3 linked regions of the Homo sapiens genome follow. The protein of the gene in region 1 interacts with the protein of each later gene in a pairwise test. Each region holds a gene or a part of one and is shown on either strand. Other genes may lie near its edges.

Region 1 (7,026 bases):
TGAAAAGGGCTGAGGGGGCCTGGCGTGGTGGCTCACGCCTGTAATCACAGCACTTTGGGAGGCTGAGGCAGGCGGATCACGAGGTCAGGAGATCGAGACCATCCTGGCTAACACGGTGAAACCCGTCTCTACTAAAAATAGAAAAAATTAGCCGGGCATGGTGGTGGGTGCCTGTAGTCCCAGCTACTCGGGAGGCTGAGGCAGGAGAATGGCGTGAACCTGGGAGGCGGAGCTTGCAGTGAGCCGAGATCATGCCGCTGCACTCCAGCCTGGGCGACAGAGCGAGACTCCGTCTCAAAAAAAAAAAACTAAAAAAGAAAAGGGCTGAGGGTTAAGAGCCTGAAAGCTGGGACTTAAATGTTTTTCTGAGGAGGGCTTTTTTGACCATTCCATCTAATATGGCACCACCTCCTTTCCAAGTAGTCAGATCGCCTTCTTATTTCTTTCATGTAGCTTATCGTTCTGATATATCTTGTTTTTTTCTCCTCTCTAAAATTTGAGGGTCCGTATCTTGTTTGTCTTAGTACTGGCTGCCTAAGGTCTAGAATATACATAACACAGAAACACTCTGTGTTTGTCGAATGGACACAAACTCTGCTAGCTTGTGCACAGGATTTACAGCTACTGGTGATATACTGAGCTTTATCTCTGTGAGCCTCTGCCTTAGTGTCTGAAGGGGACAGAGAAATAGACAAAGGAGAGGAAAAGTCAAAATCACTGGTTGCCATTTTTGGAAGCCTCTCTTTCTCCATGTTAAACCCCTTGGCATGAATGAAAGGCTTTCCCCTTTATCCTTGCTGTGTTTATTCATTGTGTCCAATGAGCTTCTGAAGGTAGGAGTAACTTTGCACATTTTGCTGTGTGGGCTGCTGCATCTCTGCCAAAAGGTTTATGGGATTTTTACTCAGGAGATCCAGGAAAAGGAGGAGCCTGGAATCTAAGCACTTATCTCCTGAAAAGGTACAGAAACATGTTGGAGATCTTGAGCCTCAAGGTGCTTGCTTCAGAATTTTCCTGATTCTCCCTCTCCAGACCTATTCTGTTCTTGGGACCCAAGCTTCTTGGCTCCAGCCCACTCCCCCACTAGAGGAGCTGGAAAGTTTGGTGCTGTGGTCATACCAAAGATGGGCAACACCCAGACTCCTCACCCTTTTCCCCAGCATTGTGAGCGCCATATTCAGAGCCTGCAGACCCGAGTGTTAGAGCTACAGCAACAATTAGCCGTGGCTGTGGCTGCCGACCGCAAGAAAGATACCATGATTGAACAACTGGACAAGGTACCAGGGTAGCAAAATGTGGGTGGGTCTCTCCATGAAGAGCATTAAGGAATAATAAATAAGTGGGTGGCCAACCAATGTTTCTTGGTACATGCTGAGAGCTGGGCAAGGGGTTGGTTTGCTGACTGTTGGGAGAAGATGGCTGTTGACCCTGCCCCTGTGGGTAGAAAGAGGCAAAAAAGTTATTTTGAAATTTCATCTTACTTGCCCTACCTAAGACCCTGGCCCGTGTGGTGGAGGGCTGGAACCGGCATGAGGCTGAGCGGACAGAGGTTCTCAGGGGACTTCAAGAGGAACACCAGGCAGCAGAGCTCACCAGAAGCAAGCAGCAGGAGGTGAGCGCCCTGGAGCATATGGCATTAGAACCTGAGTCACAGATCTCAAGATGGAAAGGGGCAGAAATAGCTCTGGAATTAGGGTTTCCAACAGATTGACCTCAGTCTTGTAGTGGCTGTCCTGACATTTCTTCTCATCCCTCCTTTCTTCTCCTTTAACCGTTTCTGCTGTCCAACTTGAATCATCAATGTCTTAATTTTTCCCACACCATGTAGTCTTCTATCTGGCCCCTTAGTCATTTAGTTAACTGTGAAGTTTCAAGTTTACATTGTCAATGCTTTATAAAATATAGCACACACAGATTTCCCACAGTTCCTCTGCCCTGTATTCCTCTCTTCCTGAAAGACAGTAACCCGCCTGGAACAAAGCCTTTCTGAGGCCATGGAGGCCCTGAATCGTGAGCAGGAAAGTGCCAGACTGCAGCAACGGGAAAGAGAGACACTGGTGAGAAGATTGGACTGGGTTAATTCCACTGGAAGCTGTTAATTACTTCTAGAGAGCTGTGGGCTATTGGTGGATTGTGGGAGATTATAATTTGAGTTGCACCAGAGCACTGTTTCCCAAAGTGTGTTCCTTAGAACACTAATTCAGCTAGATATTCTATTAAAAAAAAAGGCTCTGCTACCAAGTCGGTTTGAGAAACTCTGCAAATTGTATCATCATTAGAATATTAGTGTCATCTGAAGAATTATTTTAAAATATAGGCTAGGCACGGTGGCTCACCCCTGTAATCCCAGCACTTTGGGAGGCCAAGGCAGGCAGATCATGAGGTCAGGAGTTTGAGACCAGCCTGGCCAGCATGGTGAAACCCCGTCTCTACTAAAAATACAAAAAACTAGCTGGACATGGTGGTGCATGCCTGTAGTCCCAGCGACTTGGGAGGCTGAGGCAGGAGAATTGCTTGAACCCAGCAGGCAGAGGTTGCAGTGAGCTGAGATCAAGCCACTGCACTCCAGCCTGGGTGACAGAGTGAGACTCCATCTCAAAAAATAAAAATAAAAAATAAAATAAAATAAAGATTTCTGGGACTCACCTGCAGAGGTTTTGATTCAGTAGATATATGGTGGAACTCAAATCTTTTCAGAAATTTCCTGGGTGATTTTTTTCAATCTGGTTTGGGACCTCTGGTGTAGGGCATGGCCAAAAAAGGTATGAAATTGACTAACTCAAGTTTCTTTTCGTGTTTTTTTTTTTTTTTTTTTGAGACAGGGTCGCGCTCTGTTGTCCAGGCTGGAGTGCAGTGGCACAATCTCAGCTCACTGCAGCCTCTGCCCCCTGGATTCTAGCGATTCTCCCACCTTAGCCTCCCAAGTAGCTGGGACTACAGGCGTATACCACCACGCCTAGCTAATTTTTGTATTTTTTTGGTAGAGACGGGGTTTCGCCATGTTGGCCAGGCTGGTCTCAAACTCCTGACCTCAAGTGATCTGCCCGCCTTGGCCTCCCAAAGTGCTGGGATTACAGGCATAAGCCACCATACCCAGCCACTTCACTCAAGTCTCTTAGAGCTGAAATGATAAGGTGATTAGCCATATGAATTAGTAGCTGGGATTGGAACTTGTTGCATGCATAATGCATGCTTGCTACATGCATGCTGGTACTTGTAGTCTTAACAGGCTATATCTGACAGTCCTGATGATGATGGGTGATGGTTCACGATTATAGGCTGGATATTCTAGTCTTAGTGGAATTTCTTTTGACGATGATGGTGGTAACTATTGTGTATTGAGTACTTACTATGTGCCTGATGCCGTGCTAAATGCCTTACATATGCTTTTTACTTTAATGCTCAGAAGGCAGACCCTGTTATGATCTCCAGTTTACAGATAAGAATGTATGCCTAAGAACACATAGTAAATTCCAGAACCAGGATTCGAACCTGAGATTTGAACCCAGGTCTACCTGGCTCTGGAACAGGAACTCTTATCTACTATATTATAATCCTATGAGCTTGTCAACTATTGTGTTTGTTTGTTTTGAGATGGAGTCTCGCTCTGTTGCCCAGGCTAGGGTTCAGTGGCACAATCTTGGCTCACTGCAACCTCCGCCTCCCAGGTTCAAGCAATTCTCCTGCCTCAGCCTCCTGAGTAGCTGGGAATACAGGTGTGCACCACCATGCCCAGCTAATTTTTATATTTTTAGTAGAGACATGGTTTCACCATGTTGGCCAGGCTGGTCCCAAACTCCTGACCTCAGATGATCTGCCTGCCTCAGCCTCCCAAAGTGCTGGGATTACAGGCATGAGCCACTGCGCCTGTCAACTATTGTGGGGTTTCTTTTGGTTTTATTTGAGATGGAGTCTTGCTCGATGTCGCCTAGGCTGGAGTGCAGTTGTGTGATCCCAGCTCACTGCAACCTCCACCTCCCAGGTTAGAGCGATTCTCCTGCCTTTGCCTCCCAAGTAGCTGGAATTACAGGCACCCACCACCACGCCTGGCTAATTTTTGTATTTTTAGTAGAGATGGGGTTTCACCATGTTGGACCAGGCTGGTCTCAAACTCCTGACCTCAGGTAATCTGCCTGCCTTGGCCTCCCAAAATGCTGGGATTACAGGTGTGAGCCACCGCACCCGGCCTAATTATTGTGTTTTTAATGAGCATAATTCTCAGCAGGCACCTTGTATGAGGGTCAGAGGGCAGATCGCTGGTCTCTGAAGAGCCTACTAAGGAGCTTGGTTTTCTTCTGCGGCTGTAGGAGGAGGAAAGGCAAGCTCTGACTCTGAGGTTGGAGGCAGAACAGCAGCGGTGCTGTGTCCTGCAGGAAGAGCGGGATGCAGCTCGGGCTGGGCAACTGAGTGAGCATCGAGAGTTGGAGACTCTTCGGGCTGCCCTAGAAGAAGAACGGCAGACCTGGGCCCAGCAAGAGCACCAGCTTAAGGAACACTACCAGGCGCTGCAGGAGGAGAGCCAGGCTCAGCTGGAAAGGGAGAAGGTAAAAGTGGCAGTTGGAAGAGCTGAGGAACTAGGGAGTAGATGAAGGGCAAAATAATTGAATGGGATGGAATGTTAGAATATGGGGGATACATATAGGCAGGAATGGAGAGTAGAGAGCCATGTGTGGGAGACAAGGTTGAGAGTATAGGGCCAGCAGGAAGGGCTGGGGGTAATGAATACGTGAAAGGCCAAAGACTGAAATTCAACAGGGATGGGGAAATAAAACAAATGGGAGGAGCTGGGGGAAGCTTGGATTTTAGGGTTTGGGAGGATGAACTGGGGAGTGTAGGTAACCAGGAGATAAGAAATGAGGTATGTATATACATTTGATTTGTCTTTCATAGGAGAAGAGCCAGAGGGAAGCCCAGGCCGCCTGGGAGACCCAGCACCAGTTGGCATTGGTGCAGTCTGAGGTGCGGCGGCTGGAAGGAGAGCTGGATACAGCTCGGAGAGAGAGAGATGCCCTGCAGCTGGAAATGAGCTTGGTGCAGGTCAGAAGGCAGAGGTTTCTTGAGGTTTTGTTCTGACAGAAGTAGATCTGAGGCAGAGGGACCTCTCAGGAGTTGTGGCAGACACTCCCAGTTCAGGTGTTTGGGGTTTAATTCCATTAACAGTTTCTATGTAGTATGGGTAGTTTTCTGTCCTAAACTCAGAGCTATTTCTTACTGAGTGACCATTTCCCACAATATGTCAGACTGACCTAGTGTTACTTTTAGGATTAAATAGATTTAAATCTATTAAAGATACCTTATGTTATTTTAAGAGATGACACCACACTTAGTGGGTTGACAGAGCAGGTGAAAGCTTTTGTCAGAGACTTGATTCCAATTGTAACAGTGTGCTTTGTAATTCTCATTACTTGAATAACTTGTATTAATTTCTCTGAGTAGGTCAGGGACCCAGGAGGGCAATGATTTTTTAATTTACTTATGAAACTTCCATAACAGCACATGGCCTGGCACAGAATTGTACTCAAAAATTGTTTGTCAGATATAATTACACTTTGAAAAACTCTTTCCATCTAGCTAACACACTGAATTTTAAATTCAAACTAGTCGGACTCTTGCCATGGAATAGAGCAGGAGTTGGCGAACTTTTTCTGTAAAGGGCCAGACAGTAAATATTTTTAGCTTTGTGGGTTGTATGGTCTCAGTTGCAACTACCCAACTCTGCTGTTATACCACAGAAGTAGCTATAAACTGTACGTAAACAAATGGGCACAGCTGTGTTCTAGTACAACTTATCTAAACAGGCAATGGAGGGCTGAATTGGGCTGTAGTTCGCCGATCTCCAGAATAGAGGAAAGGATTGGAGAGAGCTGTGTTCCAGCCCATGGGGGAGACACAGCGTTGAAGAGGAAAGAGTATTGCATTAGGACTTAGGGCACTTACGTCTACTTCTAGCTAGAATTTTGACCTTTATGGGCCTCTGTTTTTATGTATAAAATGTGTAAGGACAAATTGATGAATTTTCCAGGTGCAAGCCAGTCTGAGAGGCTATGTTCCTTATAAATGGTTAACTTAAGGAGGTACCAGTGAGGCCAGCATTTGAGAACCACAATCCTTTGGCCCGGTATGGTGGCTCATGCCTGTAATCCCAGCACTGTGGGAGGCCAAGGCGGGTGGATCACTTGAGCCCAGGAGTTTGAGACCAGCCCGGCCAACATGGTGAAACCCTGTCTCTACTAAAAATACAAAAATTATCCAGGTGTATGGTGCACACCTGTAGTCCCGGCTACTAAGAAGGCCGAGGCAGGAGAATCGCTTGAACCCGGGAGGTGGAGGTTGCAGTGAGCCCAGATTGAACCAGTGTACTCCAGCCTGGGCAACAGAGTGAGACTCCATCTCAAAAAAAAAAAAAAAAAAAGAATTGACCTAGGGCTTCAGGTGTTACAATGAGATCACATGCGATAAAGACTAAGAAAGCATCCGGGTGTGGTGGCTCGCACCTGGAATCCCAGCACTTTGGGAGGCCGAAACGGGCAGATTGCTTGAGCCCAGGAGTTCAAGACCAACCTGGGCGCAATATGGCAGTACCTAAACTCTGCTAAAAATACAAAAACTTAGCCGGGTATAGTGGCATGCACCTGTAGTCCCAGCTACTCGGGAGGCTGAGGTGGGAGGATCAACTGAACCCTGGAAGTAGAGGCTGCAGTGACCCGTGATCACACCACTGCACTCCAGCCTGGGTGACAGGAGCGAGACCGAGTCTCAAAAAAAAAAAAGACAGAAAGGGCCAGGTGTGGTGGCTCACGCCTGTAATCCCAGCACTTTGGGAGGCTGAAGTGGGAGGATTGCTTGAGTCCAAGAGTTTGAGACCAGTCTGGGCAACATAATGAGACCCCATCTCTACAAAAAATAAAAATATTAGCTGGGTGTTGTGGCACCAGCTTGTAGTCCCAGCTACTCTGGAGGCTGAGGTGGGAGGATCTCTTGAGTCTGGGAGGTCAAGACTGCAGTGAGCCATGATCACACCACTGC
Region 2 (7,026 bases), on another chromosome or scaffold:
GGGCATCCCTCATAGGGGCATACCCCTTTCTTGGGATAATGGGCATCCCTGGGGTCAGGGGTGGGCTGGGGGTGGGGGAGTGAGAGCCCACCTCCAAACCAATCACAACATTTAAAATACCAGTTTTACAGCAAAGCTCTTGAATAGCCACAGGAATGGAGGAGGACAGCTCTAGGAATCATTTGTACACAAATACCTTGGAGATATTGTAGGTTCAGTTACAGACTACTGCAATAAAGCACATATCAAAATAAAGCAAGTCACACAAATTTTTTGGTTTCCCAGTGCATATAAAAGTTATATATATATACACACACACACACACATGCACATAAGTTATATATAACTTATATGTATATATACACATATAAGTTATATATAACTTATACATATATACATATGTATGTATGTATATATAGATATATATAACTTTTAAACTGTGCTACTTTTATACTATATATGTATATATACACACATAACTTTTATACTATACTACTTTTATACTATATATACATATATGTATCTAAAACTTTTATACATATAAGTATATGTAATTTATATATGTACACATGTAAACATATATATAACTTTGTGTAATTCTATTGTACACTTAATAGACTAAAGTATATTTTATAAAAAGAAATAGAATTATTAGAATAGCACAATAGAATTAAATAAAATATATATAGTATAAAATATACTGTAGTCTATTAAGTGTATACAGTATATACATATATGTATATATACATATATGTGAATATATACATATACACACAGTATAAAATATACTGTAATATACTGTAAATATAATGGCATCAAGAATGGTGAATCCTATTCATATGGTTTTCAATTTACTTTGCCCAGATCCATCAGAGGAATCACTATCCATGGCAGCTAAAGCCTTACAAAAAGTATACATTGTAATATATTTACCTATATATATACACATATACAGTGTAAAATATACTGTAGCCTATTAAGTGTGCAATAAAATTACACCCAAAAACAATATATACACCTTAATTTTAAAAGCTTGATTGCTAAAAAATGCTAAATTGCTAAAAATGAGCCTTCAGTGAGTCTTAATCTCTTTTTGCTGGTGGAGGGTCTTGCTTCGATGTTGATGGCTGCTGACTGACCAGTTTGGTGGTTGCTGGTGGCTGGAGTGGCTGTGGCAATTTCTTAAAATAAGACAACGGTGAGTTTGCTGCGTCAATGGACTTTTCCTTTCACTAAAGATATCTCTGTAGCATGCACCGCTGTCTGATAGCATTTTATCCATAGTAGAACTTCTTTCAAAATTGGAGTCAATCCTCTCAACCCCTGCCACTGCTTTATCAACTAAGGTTATGTAATATTCTAAGTCCTTTGTGGTCATTTCAGCAATGTTCACAGCATCTTTACCTGGAGTATATTTTATCTCAAGAAGATAAAATATTTACTCATCCACAATTTATTTACTCATCCACAAGAAGCAACTCCTCATCCATTCTTCAGGCTCCACTTCTAATTCTGGTTCTCTTGCTATTTCCACCACATCTGCAGTTATTTCCTTCACTGAGGTCTTGAACCCCTCAAAGCCATTCACGATGTTTGGAATCAACTTCTTTTAAATTTCAGTTAATGTTGATATTTTGACCTTTTCCCCTGAATTATGAATGTTCTTAATGGCATCAAGAATGGTGAATCCTATTCAGACAGTTTTCAATTTACTTTGCCCAGATCCATCAGAGGAATCACTGTCTATGACAGCTAAAGCCTAAGATTTGAAAGTTGAAATTACTCCTTGATCCATGGGCTGCAGAATGGACGTTGTTTTAGCTGGCATGAAAACAACATTTATCTCCTTGTACATCTGCATCAGAGCCTTTGGGTGACTAGGTGCATAGTCAATGAGCAGTAATATTTTGAAAGGAATCATTTCTTCTGAGCAGTAAGTCTCAACAGTGGGCTTAAAATATTCAGTAAACCATTCTTAAACAGATATGCTATTATCCAGGTTTTGTTTTTCCATTTTTAGAGCATAGGCAGAGTAGATTGAGCATAATTCTTAAGGGCCGTAGGATTTTTGGAATGGTAAATAAGCACTGGGTTCATCTTAAAGTCATCAGCTGTGTTAGCCCCTAAAAAGAGAGTCAGCCTGTCCTTTGAAATTTTGAAGCCAGGCATTGACTTCCCCTTTCTAGCTATGAAAGCCCTAGGTGGCATCTTCTTCCAATATAAGGCTATTTCTTCTACTCTGAAAATGTGTTGTTTAGTGTAGTCACCTTCATCAATTATCTTAGTTAGATCTTCTGAATCACTTACTGCAGTTTCTACATCAGCACTTGCTGCTTCATCTTTGAACTTTTGCATTATGGAGAGGACTTCTTTCCTTAAACCTCAAGAACCAACCTCTGCTAGATTCAAACGTTTCTTCTGCAGCTTCCTCTCCTTTTTCAGTCTTCATAGAATGAAAGAAAGGTACTGTCTTGCTCTGGATTAGGCTTTGGCTTAAGAGAATGTTGGGGCTGGTTTGATCTTCTGTCCAGACCACTAAAGCTCTCTTCACATCAGCAATAAGACTGTTTTGCTTTCTTATCATTTGTGTGTTTGCTGGAGTAACACTTCTGATTTCCTTTAAGATCTTTTTCTTTGCATTCACAACTTGGCTGTGAGGCACAAAATGCCTCGCTTTTGGCCTGTCTTGGCTTTTGATATGCCATCCTCACTAAGCTTCATTATTTCTAGCTTTTGATTTAAAATGAGAGTCATGTGACACTTTCTTTGACCTGAACACTTAGAAGTCAAAGTAAGGTTATCAATTGGCCTAATTTCAATATTGTTGTGCCTCAGCAAATAGAGAGGCCTAAGGAGAGGAATGGCCAGCCAGGGGAGCAGCCAGAACACACACAACATTTATCAATTAGGTTGGCCATCTTACATGGATGCAGCTCAGGACGCCTCAAAACAATGACGATAGGAATATCCAAGATCACTGATCACAGATCATAGATCACCATAACAACCATAATAGTAATTTAAAAGTTTGAAATAATGTGAGAATTAACAAAACGTGACAGACACAAAATGTGCACATGCTGTTGGAAAACTGGCACAGAAAGACTTGTTCAAGGCAGGGTGGCCACAAATCTTCAATTTGTAAAAAATACAGGATCTGTGAAGCACAATAAAGTGAAGCATAGCAAAATGAAGTGTGCCTCTATTTAGCTTTGAAGTGCACTGTGTAGATCAGATTCCAACTTAATAGAAGTATTTATTGAGCCTACTATGCACAGAGTTCTGGGAGTACAGAAGAACATAATCCTTGCCCTTAAAGAGATTATGCTCAATCTCATTCACTTGAAGTCAACTCAATGTTTATTGAGTTCCTGTCTTGGGCTCAGTGGGGATGGGATAAAGAAGAAAAGAGGATGAGTTAGCCAGCCTCTGCCCCCCAAGGTATCACACCCTGTTAAGGAAGTGGGCTGTAGACAAAAATGACTCTAAGTCTGGCCATAGTAGCAGCTTTAATAGAAATTCAAACAGCATCTCAACATGAATCCTTCACAAATTTGCACATTTGCTTAGGCTGCTATTTAAATTATTTTCATTTCCCTGTGCACGTGCCAATAGCCAGTAGAGAGGACAGCCCAGGTGCTCCCCAAGCTGGCTGGGGGGATAGGGGTGGGGGCGGGAGAGAGGATGATGCTGGAAGAATCAGATTGAGGTGAACACAAGGCTGTACATACTCCACCAAGTGGACAATCAAGAGTCAACCCTGAAACCACCTCTCCCTCTGACCTGGCAGCTTTCTCATGACCATTCTTCTCTCTTCTTCCGTCTTTGTCCCTTCCGTGTGCCCCCTCCTCCAACACCCTCACCCGCTTCTCCCCGCCTCTGTCTGTCTGTCCCTCCCTGCCTGGCTCATGCCGAGGGCAGGCACCTCTGTCAGCCTCCTCGCAGTTGTAGTTATTGTGTGTGGCGTGGCCCTGGTGGCAGTTTTTCTCTTTCTCTTTTGGAAGCTGTGCTGGATGCCCTGGAGGAACAAGGAGGCCTCCAGTCCCTCTTCTGCTAATCCCCCCTTGGAAGCCCTCCAGAGCCCCAGCTTCAGAGGCAACATGGCGGACAAGCTGAAGGACCCCAGCACCCTGGGCTTCCTGGAGGCGGCCGTGAAGATCAGCCACACGTCCCCAGATATCCCAGCTGAGGTGCAGATGTCGGTCAAGGAGCACATCATGCGTCACACCCGGCTGCAGCGGCAAACTACAGAGCCAGCGTCATCCACCAGGTGAGGAGTGGACCACTCCCTTCCCTGACCCCCACACCTCCACACTCCCTTAATACATCTATGGGATTCCAGCCTGTGGGGATCACAGACCAGAAATAATAACACATATCCTTTGATTGACAAATATGTCAGATGATGTGAGCCATGATGGGTGATCAATGAGGAGGTGGGCACCAGGAAAGACTTCATGAAAGGGAAACCTTTGAGGCGGGTTGCTGTATATGTGGTTTGCACTTGGGGTGTGTGTGGGTGTGAGGGGAATGGAATAGTGGAATAGGGGAGTGTTGGATGTTTGGAAGGAAAGACTTCAGGCAGAAGGAAGAGAACAGTAAAGGCCTAGAGATGTAAGAGTTCATGGTGTGTTTAGGGATATGTCAGTAAAGCCTGATAGCTACAGTCTGCAGTACATGGCAGATAAGGCAAGGGAATCTTAATAGTTTGAGAATCAGGATTCCTTTAAAGCCTTTCAGAGTTCCCTGCATGACAACAACTGTAAATACATACAGCATCCTTTAACTGAAAATAGCAACAAGAAAAACATAACGACAAAAACCTACCCTAAATTCAGAAGCACTTTTAAAAGATGTGGTGCAAGCATGCGTAAGGCATTGTATTTACTCAAAACTTAGGGCTCTGATGGACTCCTAGGTCCCTGCAACGGCTCTCCAGGCCCTCAGGGGACCAACAAAAGAGAACGAGGCCTGGTCTTCAGACTGGAGGCCAGGAATGAACATGCTGGGAGGTCACACTGACAGTCTGTCATATGGCCTTGGGCAAGTTCCTCACCTTCCCTTAGACTCACTTTTTCCAACTGTAAAATAAGGCTGATGACTTTTATATGGCAGTTGTGAGGAGCCAATGGAAGAATCAATGTGATTGATAAGGAGAGCTAACACATATATTGCTTATGATTATGCTTGGCTCTATTCTAAGCACTTCATATGTAATCAATTCATTTCACAGCAATCCTATGCAGCTGTTACTTTTATTATCCTCGTTTTTATGGCACAGAGAGGTTAAATAACTTTCCCAAGATCTCAGCTAGAAAGTGACAGAGCCAAAATTAACCTATGCAGGCTAACTCCAAAGCCCATGCTTTTACCACTCTGCTGCCTGCCGTATAGCAAATGCTTAACAAATGGTGATGGTGATGATGGTGATGAAGTGGGTGCCACATTGAGGATAAGAAGGGATGGTCCTTCTCTTAAGGAATCTCATGATTTAATAAGGAAACCAGAGTCATGTCTACTAGGAAGTAAACCTAGAAAGCAGGTAACAGAAAAGCAGGAAAAAGTGATTATGATAACAATGGCTAAAGTTTATTGAGCTTACTATATATCAGGCACCATTCCAACTACTTTACATATATTAAGACATGTAATGCTCACCACAACCTTGCACACAAAGTGTATGCAGAGCAAAAGTGGGGTCAAGAAGAGGAAGGAAAAGGGGGCTCAACAAGGGATAAGATGAGCCAGGGCCTCCAGGCTCGTGTTTGCCTTCATCCCCCTTCCCCTGAGCCCTGACCACACTCCCTCTGCCCCCTCCTGCCCTCTACCAGGCACACGTCCTTCAAGCGCCACCTGCCAAGGCAGATGCATGTCTCCAGTGTAGACTATGGCAATGAGCTTCCACCAGCAGCAGAGCAGCCCACCAGCATTGGCCGCATCAAGCCTGAGCTCTACAAGCAGAAGTCGGTGGATGGGGAGGATGCCAAGTCTGAGGCCACCAAGAGCTGCGGGAAGATCAACTTCAGCCTACGCTACGATTACGAGACCGAGACCCTGATTGTGCGTATCCTGAAGGCTTTTGACCTCCCTGCCAAGGACTTTTGTGGAAGCTCTGACCCTTATGTCAAGATCTACCTCCTGCCTGACCGCAAATGCAAGCTGCAGACCCGGGTGCACCGCAAGACCCTGAACCCCACCTTTGATGAGAACTTCCACTTCCCTGTGCCCTATGAGGAGCTGGCTGACCGCAAGCTGCATCTCAGTGTCTTCGACTTTGACCGCTTCTCCCGCCATGACATGATTGGCGAGGTCATCCTGGACAACCTCTTTGAGGCCTCTGACCTGTCTCGGGAAACCTCCATCTGGAAGGATATCCAATATGCCACAAGTGTAAGTACAGCCCTGTTCCTTGGCTTCTTGAGGATTTGTGGTTCTGGGTTGGGTGGGACATGTCCCCAAACCCTCACTTCCTAGAGACAAATGGGCCTTTGCCATTTGGGATGTGAAGAGGGACTCTGGAAACTGCCCAGTGGCCCAGTCTACCCTTGCACTCTGCCCCAGGTTGGGATGGCAGAGAGCAGAGTCCCCATGTAGCTAGGAAGGGAAGGGAATTTTTATCTGTGGCTTCTGGTTGCATGTTCTGGGGTGGTTCTTTCTACTGAGAGTACTGATGTGCATTAGAAACTTGGCATAGGCAATTGAAACAGGCCATATCAATCAGACTGAACTAGGCTATGCTGCAGCAGCAAACAGTCCGAGGATTTTGTGGCTTTAGACAACCAAAGTTTATGCCTTGTTCATGTTTCATGTGCTTTGCAGCTGGACTGGGGACTCTGCTCCACCTTGTTACCTGGGGACCCAAGCCAACAGAGGCTGCATTTAGACACGGGCCCCCACAGTTAAACATCAGGAGGAAGAGGAAGTGGCAAATCACGCACTGTTTATTAAAACTTCCACGCAGAAGTGACACATGTCACTTCCACTCCCATTAGAACAAGACACGCGGTAACTCCTAATATCAAGGGA
Region 3 (7,026 bases), on another chromosome or scaffold:
TCTTTGCTAATACTGGATTTTACAAGGAAGTGCACAGATGGGCCTCACAGAAAATTCAAAAGCCTGAGTAAGTTTGGCCAAGCAAAGAATTTTTGTCAAAGCTGAGATTATTAGTAGTAAACACAAGTGACTTTGTTTTGAAGACACTTTTTACGTTACCTTGACTATACCAGGGGGTTAAAAATTTCACCCATAAACTGCCAGCTTTGATTTCATGATTATTTTCTTCTTAATTCTTTTGGACCAACCTAGTCATTCTTTTCCCAATTGTAGTTTTATTTTTGTTTGATTGCACTCACATAGTGTGTTTGTTAGCTTCGGTTGTAGAGAGAGCCATATAGTCTGGAATTTCAGAGTACCTTTTTGGTCTGTTGCTGTATTTAACTTGAACACCTTCATCTGATTAATCTTTTCCTGAATTATCTGGTTGCCGGCTTAAGTTCAACATTTTTTTTTTTTTTAGACAGAGTCATTCTCTGGTTTCTCTTCAAATTGTATAAATCTTTCGCCTTTTACTAAAGATTTCCGTGGAGACAGAGTCTCGCTCTGTCACCCAGGCTGGAGTGTAGAGGCGAGATCTTGGTTCACTGCAACCTCCACCTCCCAGGTTCAGCCAATTCTCCTGCCTCAGCCTCCAGAGTAGCTGGGACTACAGGTGTGTGCCACCACACCCGGCTGATTTTTTGTGTTTTTAGCAGAGATGGGGTTTCACTGTGTTAGCCTGGATGATCTCAATCTCCTGACCTCATCATCTGCCCTCCTCGGCCCCCAACTGTGCCTGGATTACAGGCGTGAGCCACCGTGCTGGGCCAAGTTCAAGATTTTTTTTAAGCCCTAAAATGTTATCAAGTGTGGCTTTACTTGGCCATTTGCAAAATTACAAAGGAAATGACTCATTTTTAATACTTTGTAATGTCAAAAGACAAAATTACAACAAATTTAGCTTAAAGATCTTACTTCACCTTTGCCATTGTAGAATCAGGCAACACCTCATTTTATAAAATAGAACAAGTGTTCTCATGAGCCGAGCAGAAGTGGTTGGTTTTATGGTAGTCTCACTTTATCTTGAAGGGGTGTGTGTGTGTGTGTGTGTGTGTGTGTGTGTGTGTGTGTGTTTGTTTGTTTTGAGATGGAGACTTGCTGTGTTGCCCAGGCCAGAGTGCAGTGGGGTGATCTCAGCTTACTGCAAACTCCGGCTCCTAGGTTCAAGCGATTCTCCTGCCTCAGCCTCCTGAGTAGCTGGGACTACAGATGCCTGCCACCATGCCCGGCTAATTTTTGTAATTTTAGTAGACATGGGGTTTCACCGTGTTGCCCAGGCTGGTCTCGAACTGCTGACCTCAAGTGATCTGCCCATCTTGGCCTCCCAAAGTGCTGGGATTACAGGCATGAGCCACCGCACCCGGCCTTGGGGAGATATGTTCTAAGATCCCCAGTGGAAGCCTGAAATGGTGGATAGTACTGAATCCTATATACACTATAGGGCAGGATGAGATTTCATCATGCTACTCAGAACAGGGTGCAATTTGAAATTATGAATTATTTCTGGAATTTTCCATTTAATATTTTCAGACCACAGTTGACCTCAGGTAACTGAAACCTTGGAAAATGAATCTGCGGATAAAGGGATACTACCGTATACACTGAAAAGGGGTGAGGAAAACAGAAACAGAAAAGAAAAAGCAAATTGGTCATTTAAAGTTACTTTTCTTATTAGGGTTAAAGCAGATGGGACTTCCTTATGTCAGTCATATCATATCATATCAACTGGCCTGTTTGGGATTTGACTACTAACTCTGTCTCTCCTGATTGCTTGGAAGGTCAGATAAACAACTTAGTTTTGGCTTGGTGAAGTGGAACTTCAGCATGAGTGACTCCATTTTGATTTGATCTGTTGTCCCTAGTGCAGGAGGAACTCAGTCTAAACCAGTGACCTCCTATAAATTTCATTTAACACTGGTAAGTTAGTAATATGCAGGGATTAGCCTAATTGTTTTGTTTCAGTAAAGATGGCTTGAAATAAATGGGCCATCACATGTTAAATGAAGATCTTCTAAATCAAATTATATAGTATTTGTAGCAATAGAATTTGCCCTGTAAAACTTGGATAAAAAGTCTATCAGTCTCCGAAGCCAGGAGCCATGGCTTGTGCCTATAGTCCCAGTTACTTGGAAGACTGAGGTGGGAGGATCGCTTGAGCCTGGTTCGAGTCCAGCCTGGGCAACACAGCAACACGTCATCTCTAAACAGAACAAACAAACAAAACATATATATGTATATATCAGTCTTCTGGAATTTAAGGTCTACACTTTAAGAACCAGGAAATAAGCTAATTTTTTAAAATGGATTTTCAACCTAAATATATCTTAAAAATGTATAAAAATCTGTCAGATTAATAACTAATTATAAACTGATCTTGGAGTCTTTGAGGGCACTGTATTGTCTTTGATATTATTTTATTTTGCTGCTGTGTGTCACCAGTGTTTGGCTTTGTAACTCTTAATCCCCCAACTTTGTTTACAGTAATGAGAGAGGTCCAATACGTTTGGAAATGTTGAAGGCTTTCCAGGTCTAACTGCTGAAAAACAAAAATCTTACCTAATAACATGAAAGATTAATGCTTAAAATTGATTATCTTAATCAAGAAAGGAATCAAATAATTTTCAAAAGGCTAGTCATTGTTCCATTCAAATATGATTCTTTGAAATTAAAACATAAAATGGATGAGGACATAAGAGAGCTTTTCACTATTTTAACTGAATGGAAGAAATAAATGAACAATAGGGTAGAGTACTACACATATTAGAAATGTTTATAAAACTACTGCCACTCATCTTTAAAAAGCAATGTTTATATAACAGATTACTACTTAGCAATAACAAGGAATGAACTTTAGATCACACAACAACATGGATAAATCTCAAAATAATTACACAGCACGAAAAAAAGCCAGACCAAAAAGAAAAAAAAAGTACATACTGCATTGTTCCATCTGTAAAATTCTAGAAAATGCCTATTAATCTATAATGGAAGAAAGATCAATGCTGGCCTGGAGATAAGTTACAGAGGGAAGGGGCAGGAAAGAGGGAGAACAGTGGCATACTAGGAAACTTCAGGGGATACTAGATATGTTTACTATCTTGATTTGATGATGGTTTCATGGGTGTACACATATGTTGGAACATATCAAATTATGCACTTTAAATATGTGGTTTGTTACATGTCAGTTATACCTGTAAAGTTGTGTTTAAAAGTGGCTTGACCATGAAAAGACATGAAGAAATCTTTAGTGCATATCACTAAGTGAAAAAAGGCAAACTGAAAAGTCTGCATACTTTATGATTACAAGTGTATGGCATTCTGGGAAAGGCAAAACTATGGAGACAGTAAAAAGATTAGTGGTGGAGAGAAGGAGGGATGAATACGCAGAGCACAGAAGATTTTTAGGGCGGTGAAACTATTCTGAAGATACTACAGTGGTAGCTACATGTTATTATACATTTGTCGATACCCATAGAATATACCACATCAAGAGTGAATCCTAATGTAAACTGTGGACTTTGGGTGATAATGACCTGTCAGTGTAGGTTCATTGATTATAACAAATGTACCAGTTTAGGGGGGCTGTCCATAGTTGGGGAGGCTGTACATGTGTGAGAGAGCAGGGTGTACATGGAAACTCTGTAATTGCCTCTCTGTTTTGTTGTGAACCTAAAACTCTTCTAAAAAATAAAGTCTTTTTTTAAAAAAGAGGATAGAAGATTTCTGCCAGAAACCTGAAGAATTGCATATTTTACATTTAAAAATGGGGGGAGAGGAAGGTAAAGTCCAGAAACTATATATTGAAAATCTTGACACTGACTGATTCCTAGAAAAACTATAGACCAGCTTGCCAAGTGCTTAGTGATTTGTAATTAGAAAAGAAAGCACTGATTACTAAGACCCAGAATTTGTTTAAGAACAAGTCATATTAAGCTAACTTCATGCTTACTTTGCCAAAGATGTAATAGTATTTGTATGATACTCTTTGTATAGTACTACTTTATAACTTACAGAGTACATTCCCATTTATTATTTTATTTAACCCTGACAACATCCCTTTCAATTCGTGTAAGATGAGAAAGACCTCAACAGTAATAATCCCAGGAAGGCGCAAAGGGGACAGATGTGAGAGATTTTAGAAAGGCCTTGTGTAGTTATGGATAAAGGAGAGGGAGGAATCAAAGCAGGCTTTAAGGATTCTAGATTGTCTGAGGGTGAATGGGGATGCAGATAATTACTCGTAATTTAAAAAATACGGGTGGAGGAGTGGATTTGGAGATGTGAAATCCATCAGTTTTCTTCAGTTTGGTGGAATTAGCTGTTTTATTTCCTTTGTTGAAACTGAGTCAGATATAGATACATTTAAAAAAAAAAAAAGGCCTGGTGCTCAGGAGAGAAGCCTAAACCCAATAAAACAATTTTCATTTGTTCAGTAAATATATTCTTTCAAATACTTTTGGTAATGAAGGGAGGTTAGTGGGTAGAAGCTTGAGGAAGTAGATGTGATCATTGGGAAGGTTTGTCTGTTTTAAGGATGGAGAAGCCAAGGACACTTCAGTGGATTGAGGGAAAGGGACCATTGAAGAGGAAGAAAATTGAAGTCACAAGAGGTAGAAGATAATTGATCAAATGTAACGAGAGGAAATGGAAGAGTCAGGTCCAGGAGGACAAATGAAAGAGTTACCCTGAAGAAGAGGAATGATGTATCTTCCTGTTTAAAAACGAAAAGGAAATGGGGTAGATATAGATATAAGTTAGTATCCAGGATGACATCTCTTTTTCTCTGTGAAGCAAGATTATCTGCTGAGATTGAGAAGGAAGAACATGGGTTGGAGTATGCTTGAGGGGAAAATAAAAGTTACTATTGAGATTGTAAAAGGGACTTAACTAGGGGCATGTGACTTCTTTGCTGAATCATGATGAATACCCTTCCAGGCTTGAAATCACAAATGTACAGAGGCCAGCAGGATGGTTAAGCAGTGTTCTCCAGCAGCCTGCCTGCTCCCACTCCCCTTCCCTGCCCCCCATAACAATGCAGAAAACAAATAGACTGAACTTGGACCACTCCCCTTCCCCACCCCCATAACAATGCAGAAAACAAGTAGACTGAACCTGGATTGAGATTGGAAGGGAAGATGTGATGGAAAACTTGAGTAGGGGGTAGTGGGAAGTCAAGGAATAGAGAGTGGTAATGAGGCTGCTAATTGAAGGGTTGAGCCATAGGAATCCTGCTTATTAAGGAACAAAGCCAAGCCAAGACAAGGCTGGTAAATGTGGATAATGAAGAGGATGAAGAATCTAAATGAGTCAAGTGCAGGATTAATGGAAATAAAAGAGTACTAGAGATGGAAAAATTGGCACATAGATGTGAGAATTCTCAATTTAAGATTCTGGAGTTAGCAGTTTCAGGTGATGATAAGGGCCAAAGAATGACCAATGATGGGTGGATAGCCAAGATTAATAGTGCTAATTATAACAATATTAATATTAATAAAAACTACTATTCATTGAACACTGTGTAGTAGTCACTATAGTAAATATTTTCCATAGGTTATCATGCTTATGTTTCACATATTAGTATCAACATTTTACAGATGAGGAAACTGGAGCTCAGTGAGATTGAGTAACTTTTCCCAAGACTCACAGCTACGAAGTACCTGAGTCTTTCTGAGTCCTTCTAGCATTGAAGCACTTATGCCTGACTACTAAACCATGCTAGCCTTCTGCAAAGTAGGGGTCATTGAAGAAGAAGGCAAAGAGCATTAAGTCTTGTGTGTTGGAATCAATTGTTCTTATGGATAATGAAGTCCCCAGAATATATAGCTTCTGTGTGGAAAGGAAGATAGTCATACGACAAAATTCTCAGTAAATGGAGATGGCTGACTCAAAGGTCAGTAGGTGACAACTATAAATATAGCTATAATGTAATCTTAAAAGTGGATAAAATCGAATAACAATGACTTACAAGTCATCTTGGGAAACTAGGAGAATACTGACTTGTCTTCCTGGCCCCCAAAGTGATGCATATGAAAATATTAACCATTCATTTCTTAACCCTCTCTTCTCTCTTGGCTTGTGAAATTTTATATATATATGTGTGTGTGTGTGTGTGTGTGTGTGTGTGTGTGTGTGTGTGTATTTACATATGTTTGTGTATATATACGTGTGTGTGTGTATATATATACACCTGTGTGCACACGCGCACACACACCCACAGACACACCCCCCTCTTTTTTGGTTTTCCTCGTACCCCTCTAACCACTCCTCTTCAGTCTCATTGGCTGGATTCTTCTTTGCCAGCTCCTTCATGTTGGTGAGCCTCTGGATTCTCTCCTCCTCCTCATTTCTCTTTCTTTGTGCTTTCCTTTGATGATCTCATCTATTTCTAAGCTTTCATATACCACCTATATGTTAATGACTTCTGAATGTTCATCTAGAGATGAATCTAGAACTTTCTTCAAATCCCAACATCCTTATATAGGAAGATGTACCCAGAAGAAATAGCCCATGATATTTCAGGGCAATATCATGTGACTAGAGAAAGTCATCTTAGGCTAGTAATCTCCACTCATGCCCATCTAGTTGAGGGCTCAATTCACTTATTTTCAACATCCACAACCATTTCTAAGGTGATAGCTTCTCTGGTTACTTATCACTGGTATGACCAAACATCTTGATTTGCCTAAGATGGCTCTGGTTTATGCCTATTGTTCAAGACCAACCTGGCCAACATGGTGAAACCCCATCTCTACTAAAAATACAAAAAATTAGCTAGGTGTGGTGACGCACACCTGTAATCCCAGCTACTGAGGAGGCTGAGGCATGAGAATCGCTTGAACCTAGGAGGTGGAGGCTGCAGTGAGCCGAGATCGCACCACTGCATTCCAGCCTGGGCGACAAGAGTGAGATTTCATCTCAAAAAAAAAAAAAAAAAAAAAATCAGTATATCCTGTGTAACTTGTAAGAGCTGCTTATATCCATCAG

The links.
Region 2: the proteins of CNTROB (region 1) and SYT6 interact in binary tests that used the Homo sapiens proteins (3 or more experiments, as listed by UniProt).
Region 3: the proteins of CNTROB (region 1) and LYST interact in a two-hybrid assay, tested with the Homo sapiens proteins (one study listed by BioGRID).

The regions. Positions count from the first base shown.
Region 1 is NC_000017.11:7,935,206-7,942,231, forward strand, and holds part of CNTROB (centrobin), read left to right. Parts: intron 1-1,032; exon of another isoform or gene 1,033-1,124; coding exon of another isoform or gene 1,125-1,160; coding exon 1,161-1,277; intron 1,278-1,495; coding exon 1,496-1,612; intron 1,613-1,958; coding exon 1,959-2,057; intron 2,058-4,307; coding exon 4,308-4,544; intron 4,545-4,890; coding exon 4,891-5,037; intron 5,038-7,026. UniProt on the Homo sapiens protein: Required for centriole duplication. Inhibition of centriole duplication leading to defects in cytokinesis.
Region 2 is NC_000001.11:114,136,859-114,143,884, reverse strand, and holds part of SYT6 (synaptotagmin-6), read left to right. Parts: intron 1-3,921; coding exon 3,922-4,270; intron 4,271-5,831; coding exon 5,832-6,390; intron 6,391-7,026.
Region 3 is NC_000001.11:235,856,896-235,863,921, reverse strand, and holds part of LYST (lysosomal-trafficking regulator), read left to right. Parts: intron 1-5,016; exon of another isoform or gene 5,017-7,026. UniProt on the Homo sapiens protein: Adapter protein that regulates and/or fission of intracellular vesicles such as lysosomes. Might regulate trafficking of effectors involved in exocytosis.